Homo sapiens: one gene and its partner. The protein of the gene in region 1 interacts with the protein of each later gene in a pairwise test. Each region holds a gene or a part of one and is shown on either strand. Other genes may lie near its edges.

Region 1 (3,500 bases):
GGTGAAGTAACATCTGAAGAGAGTTTTGAGTTTGTTGGTTTTGTTTTTTTTTTTTTTAACTCTAGCTAGAGTACTATCTAGATATAGAAACAGTACTTCTAGGAGAAACAACAACATGTTCATTTACTGACAGAGATGATCTAGTAGAGAGGGGAAATGCTGATGCAGGAAACAGGAGGAAGAATAGCTTGAGCAATATTCTTGAACAAAACAGGAAGAATCTAAAGCACATATGGAAGGACTGGCTCTAGCTAGGAGCAAGAAGCCACTCATTCTCACCAACAAAAGAGAAAGCAAACATGTTGATAGGTGGGTAAATGAGGTAGTGGGAGACTGTAGAAGTTCTCTTCTGATTCAAAGGATGGGAGAGATGTTGGAGGTTTGAAGATAGAAGAAACTTTATAAAGCAATCATCAGAATGGGACAGTGAGAGGACCAGGGAAATATGATTGGTCTGGCAACACTTAAATTGAGACCAGTCAGGACAGTTGAAGTGTTTTCTTCAGCTGATTCAGCTATACTAGGACAGGCATGAAGTGGGCAAAACTGAATTTAACTAATAGGTTTATCCAAGAGAAACCTACCAGAAAAGAGACAGACATGAATATGAAAGGTGAAAGGAAGGAAATAGTGACAATGACTGTCCATGGTATTTAAACTGGGTAAGAGGGACGTGATGAACTGAAGAGAATGAGAGACACTGGAAACATGGCAAAATCTCAGAAGGACTGAACAACTATTGAAACTGGAATACTAAAGGAAGTAAGCTGGTAAAACAGGCGAAGGCAGTCAGAGCAGGATGTTTGAAAGTGAGATGTTATTGGTAGTGACAAGACTTAGGCTTATGATCAGGAAAGCAAATGGCTGAGACTGGGTAAAAGGTAAGATCAGTGATAAAGAGGAGGTCCAGAAAATGACAGGTCAGTGTATCTGAAGGATCTTCTCTAAGGATACTGAAATCATCCAAGAATCATGATGGAAGTAATGGTGAAGAAAGTAACAGTAAGCTAGTGGCAAAATGTTTTCAAAAAGCCAAAAAGAAGCCAGGCATGGTGGCATGTGTCTGTAGTCCCAGCTACTCGGGAGGCTGAGGCAGGAGGATCCTTTGACCCCAGGGGTCTGAAGATGCAGTGAGCTGTGATTGCTCCACCGCATACTCCAGCTCCAACCTGGGCAAGAGAACAAGACCCCATCTCTAAAAGAAAAAAAGAAAAGTGAAAGAGAGTGATCCAGGAATCAGGAGAGGTAGAGGATGGGATATTGTGACAAAATGAGATTTCAACTTAGATATTTTTAGGGAGGAGGAAAGGAGAATAGCAGTGAAGGACAATGGAGACACCTATCCCACCAACAGAGGCCCTATGGTGAAAAGGTTTTGAGAATAAAATTAGCAACCGTTCACCGGGGCATTACGGGAAGTTGTGTCATCCAGGAGCACCAGATTTTGATTTAGTGCTAGAAAGCCAAGAGAACCTTCACAGAAGAGACTGAAGACATAAACGAAACCACAGTGGCAGACGAAAGCTTCTGATCTTGATACACATATCTTAAGTACAGCTGACAGAAGAATAAAGAGAAGGAAAAAGGAGAAAGGAGAAAGGAGGAGGAGGAGGGAAGAAAGAAGAAAGCAGAATAAAGCAGCTTTTGCACAAATTCAAGCAAGAGTAAAAGAGAAGAGAGAAGGAGAGAGGAGGGTAAAACATACAGACGGCAAATAAGCATATGAAAAGATGCTCAACATCATATGTCATCAGGAAACTGCAAATTAAAACATACCACTACACACCTATTAGAATGACTAAAATCCAAAGTACTGGCAACACCAAATGTTAGCAAGGATGTGGAGCATCAAAAATGCTCATTCATTGCTAGCGGGAATGCAAAATGGTATAGCCACTTTGGAAGACAGTTTGGCAATTTCTTACAAAACAAACAAAAAACATGTTCTTACCACACAATCCAGCAATTGTGCTCCTTGATATTTACCCAAACAATTGGAAAATGCATGTCCACACAAAAACCTGCACACAAATGTTTTCAGCAGTTTTATATATAATTGCCAAAAGTTGGAAGCAACCAAGATGTGCTTCAATAGGTAAGTGGATAAGCAAACTGTGAATTTATGGCCTAAACTGTGTCCTCCAAAATTCGTATGTTGAAGCCCTAACCCCAAATATTACTATATCGAGAGATACAGTCTTTAGGAGGTAATTAAAGTTAAATGAGGTCATTAAAGTGGGGCACTAATCTGATAGGACTGTGGCCTTATAAGAAGAAGAAGATTCTCTCTCTCAGTGCCATGTGAGGACACAAGAAGAAGGCAGCCATGTGCATGCAAGCCAGGAAGAGAGCCCTAACCAGAACCTGAAGGTGCGGCCATCTTGATCTTGAACTCTAACCTCCAGAACTGGGAGAAAATAAATTTCCATTGTTTAAACCACGCAGTCTGTGGTGTTGTCTTATGGCAGCCTAGGCAGACTAATAGGCTATAGAACATACATACTATTTTTTGTAACACTGTAAATAGTATTTTTGTAATACTATTTAGTGCTAAGAAGAAATGAGCTATCAAGCCATGAAAAGACATGGAGGGACCTTAAGTGCATATTGCTAAGTGAAAGAAGCCAATTCAAAAATGCTACATACTGTATGATTCCAACTATATGACATTCTGCAAAAGGCAAAACCATGGAGACAGTGAAAAGATCAGTGGTTACCTGACCAGAGGTAGGGAAGAGGAAGGAGGAAAAAATAGGTAGAGCATAGGGCTTTTTTAGGGCAGTGAAACTATTCTATATAATACTGTAATTATGGATACATGTCATTATACCTTTGTCAAAACCCATAGAACAGTGGTTCCCAACCCTGTTGGGAACCAGGCCACACAGCAGGAGGTGAGCAGCAGGTGGGTGAGTGAGCGAAGCTTCATCTGTATTTACAGCCACTCCCCATCACTTGCATTACCGCCTGAGCTCCACGACCTGTCAGATCAGCAGCAGCATTAGATTCTCATAGGAGTGTGAACCCTACTGTGAACTGCACATGTGAGGGATCTAGAGTGCACGCTCCTTATGAGAATCTAACGCCTGATGATCTAATCACTGTCTCCCATCACCCCCAGATGAGACCATCTAGTTGCAGGAAAACAAGCTCAGGGCTCCCACTAATTCTGTATTATGTTGAGTTATATAATTATTTCATTATATATTACAGTGTAATAACAATACAAATAAAGTGCACAATAAATGTAATGCACTTGAATCATCCTGAAAACATTTCCTGTGCCTCCCTGTCCCCACCTCCTGTGGAAAAATTGTCTTTCATGAAACCAGTCCCTGGTGCCAAAAGGCTGGGGATCCCTGCCATAGAATGTACAACAGAGTGAACTTTAAATGATGGGCTTAGTTAATAATAATGTATCAATACTGGCTCATCAATTGTAACCAATGTACCACACTAATGCAAGATGTTACCAATAGGAGAAGCTGGGGATGAAGGGG
Region 2 (3,500 bases), on another chromosome or scaffold:
GAATTACATTGGAAAATTTTGAATGTTACACCAAAGTGGCATAAACTACTTGGTCATGAAGTATAATTGAGCTATAATTTTCTTCTAGTGTGCTTCACAAATTTTGATATCAGCATGATGCTGGCTGGAGTCATAAAATGAGTTGGGAGTGATATCCCCTCTTCTATTTTCTGAAAGAGTTTGAGTATTATTAGTATAATTTCCTTCTTAAATGATTGATAGCATTTACCAGCGAAGCCAGGTGAATCTGAAATTTTTGTGCGAGAGAAGACTTTATTAAAAACAGTATTTCTTTAATGGTTACTTGGATTTTCCGTTTGTTCTTTTGTCTGTTTTGGTAAGTGGTACTTTTCAAGAAGTTTGTCCTTTTTATCTTGGTTGTCAACTTTATTGGCATTTTTTTTTTTTTACAATATCCTTTTAATACCTTATTATGTCTGTAGGATCTGTAGTGATCTCTCCTCTTTCATTCTTGATATTGGTAATTTGTCTTGTTTTCTTTCTGTTGTCTTGATCAACCTTGCTACAGATTGATCATTTTATTAATCTTTTCCAAAAACCAACTTTTGGCTATGTTGATTTTTCTCTATTGTCTGTCCATTTTCTATTTCATTGCTTTCTGCTCTTATTTTTGATCACTTTCTTTCTTCTAGTTATTTTAATTTTAATTCTTTTCTAGTTTACTTTATTTTTTTCTAGCTTTCTAAAATGTCTTGTTTTTAATTCTTCTTTTAGCTTCTTAAGTTGGAAACTTATATCATTTATTTCACATATCTCTTTTTCTAATGTAGGCATTTAATGCTGCAAATTTCCTTTAGCACTGTTTTAACTGCATCCCATGATTCTTGTATGTGGTATTTTTATTATTTTCAAATTCAGCATATTGTCTCATTTCCTTTGTAATTTCTTTTTTGACCATGAATTATTTAGAATTATGTTGCTTAATTTCCAAAGTATTGGGATTTTTCTAGCTATCTTATTGTTATTGCTTTCAAATTAAATTTTGTTGTAGTCAGAGATTTATTTTGTGGCTCTGCATATGGTCTATCTCAGTAAACGTTCTATGTGCTTTCTACATTGAAAAGAGTGTATATTGTTCAGTTGTAGATATAGTTTCTATAAATATCAATTAAGTCAGGCAGGTTGATAGTATCATTCAAATTTTCTACATCCTTACTGACGTTTTGTTTACTTTCTCTGTCAATTACTGAGAGTGTTAATGTCTCAAACTATGATTGTTGATTTATCCTTTGCTCCCTATAGTTCTGTCAACATTTGCTATATGCATTTTGACACTTGTTTTTAGCTCTGTTATATACATTTTTAGGATTGTTATGTCTTCTTGATGAACTGACCACTTTACCATTGTGAAATATCTCCCTTTATTTCCAGCAATGTATTTGTCTTGAAGTCTACTTTTTCTGATGTTAATATAGCTACATCACCCTTCCTATGCTTGCTGTTTTGCATGGTGTGGTGGGCAGCCTCTAAGATGGCCCCCAATAATCCTTGTGTCAGTATTTTCACCTTTGTGTAATCCCCTTCCCTAGAATATCCACTGGATTTAGTGATTCAGTACTGACAAGTTTGGTAGAATGCAGCATAGTGATGGGATATCAATTGTGATATTAAATTAAAAGGACTACAGCACCACTACACACCTATTAGATCTAGGCCAGAATCTGGAAGACTGACAACACCAAATGCTGATGAGGCTGTGGGGAAAGAGGAACTCTTATTTATTGTTCGTGGGAATTAAAAATGGTGTAGCCATTTTGGAAGACAATTCGACTATTCCTTGCAAAACTATTCAATCTAGCAGTTGCACTCCTTGGTATGTAACCCAGAAAGCTGCATGTATTACACTCCTCAGTATGTAACCCAAAAAGCTGTGGTATGTCTACACAAAAAGCTGCACACAGATGTTTATAGTAGCTATATTCATAATTGCCAAAAATTGGAAGCAACCAAGATGTCTTTCAGTAAGCGAATGAATAAATAAACTGTGGTACATTTAGACAATGGAATAATATCCAGTGCTAAAAAGAAATGAGCTATCAAGCCACGAAAAGACATGGAGGAAATGTAAATACAATTACTAATTGAAAGAAGCCAATCTTAAAAGGCTACATGTATGATTCCAACTATATGACATTCTGGAAAATGCAAAACTAGGGAAGAAGTAAAGAAGATAAGTGGTTGCTAGGGGTCGGGGAGGGAGAGATAAATAGGTGGAGTATAGAGGATTTTTTAGAGCAGTGAGACTACTCTGTACAGTACTATAATGGTGGACACATGTCATTATATATTTGTCCAAATCCATGGAATGTACAATACCAAGAGTGAATCTTAACGTAGATTACAGACTTTGGGTGATAATGGTATGCCAATGTAGGCCTTCTGCTTGATTTTGCGGTGAACCTAATATTGCTGTAAAAAACAAAATCAATTTTTAAAAAATGACAGCTTTTTATTGGGTATTCTGTCTCTATCTCACTCTCTTGTCCTGGGGAGTGAGCTTGGAACCAAATTTCCCCCAGTTGAACCAGAAAAAACAGAGAAATAAGTGTTTGTCATTTTTAGCTGCTAAATTTTGGGGATAATTTATCCTGCAGTTACATATAACTAATATACATGATATATCTACATATCTTTTTCTACCCTTCTGTTTTCAGATTATGTTTTCTCTTTTTAATCCAGACTGACAATTTCTGCCTCTAACTGGATTGTTTAGTCCATTTACATTTAATGTAATTACTAATATTACAGGGTTGAATTTAAATCTACCATCTTGGTATATGATTTCTATCTGTCCCATCTGATTGTTGTTCACCTGTGTCTTTCTTCCTGTTTTCCCTTGGTGAATGCAGTAATTTTTAGTATTCCATTTAGTATAAGTGTACATATTTTTAGTATTTATTTTTTATCTCCCCTGTTAACCTCTTCTGTGTCTTGTGTGAGTTTGTGTGGTTTTTCTAGGAATTGCAATATGCATCCTTGACATATCTATTGTCTCATGAAGGATGTAAGATATTCCAAAAGTGTAATTTCCTTAACCGACTTTCCTGGCCCTTATGTTCTTGTCATGTATTTTATTTCTATGTATAACACTATAATACATATATTGTTATTAGTTTTGCTTTAGTTAGTAGTGATTTTATTTATTTTTATTGTCTTATTTTTAATTTTGATTTTTAAAATAAAATTTACCATCTTTACTATGTTTAAGTGTTAGTTGAATAGTGTTAAGTATAGTCACATAAGTCAGTATACAGTTTTAAACAATGTATATAACAATATATATTAAACATAGGAATTTTGGACTGAATGTTTTTATCCCTCCCTCCCAATTTCTGTGTTGAAATCCTAACCCCCTTATGATGGTATTAAGAGGTCGGGGCTTTGAAAGGTCATTAGGTCATGGAGGTGGAGACTTCATGAATGGGATTAGTGCCCTTATAAAAGGAACCCCATAGAGCTCTCTAGCTCTCCTTCTGCCA

Evidence for each region. Proteins that work in one complex are often made in the same cells at the same time.
Region 2: the proteins of ATF6 (region 1) and NNMT interact in a two-hybrid assay, tested with the Homo sapiens proteins (one large-scale study listed by BioGRID and IntAct).

The regions. Positions count from the first base shown.
Region 1 is NC_000001.11:161,769,320-161,772,819, reverse strand, and holds part of ATF6 (cyclic AMP-dependent transcription factor ATF-6 alpha), read right to left. Parts: exon of another isoform or gene 205-3,500; intron 1-204.
Region 2 is NC_000011.10:114,299,399-114,302,898, forward strand, and holds part of NNMT (nicotinamide N-methyltransferase), read left to right. Parts: intron 1-3,500. UniProt on the Homo sapiens protein: Catalyzes the N-methylation of nicotinamide using the universal methyl donor S-adenosyl-L-methionine to form N1-methylnicotinamide and S-adenosyl-L-homocysteine, a predominant nicotinamide/vitamin B3 clearance pathway.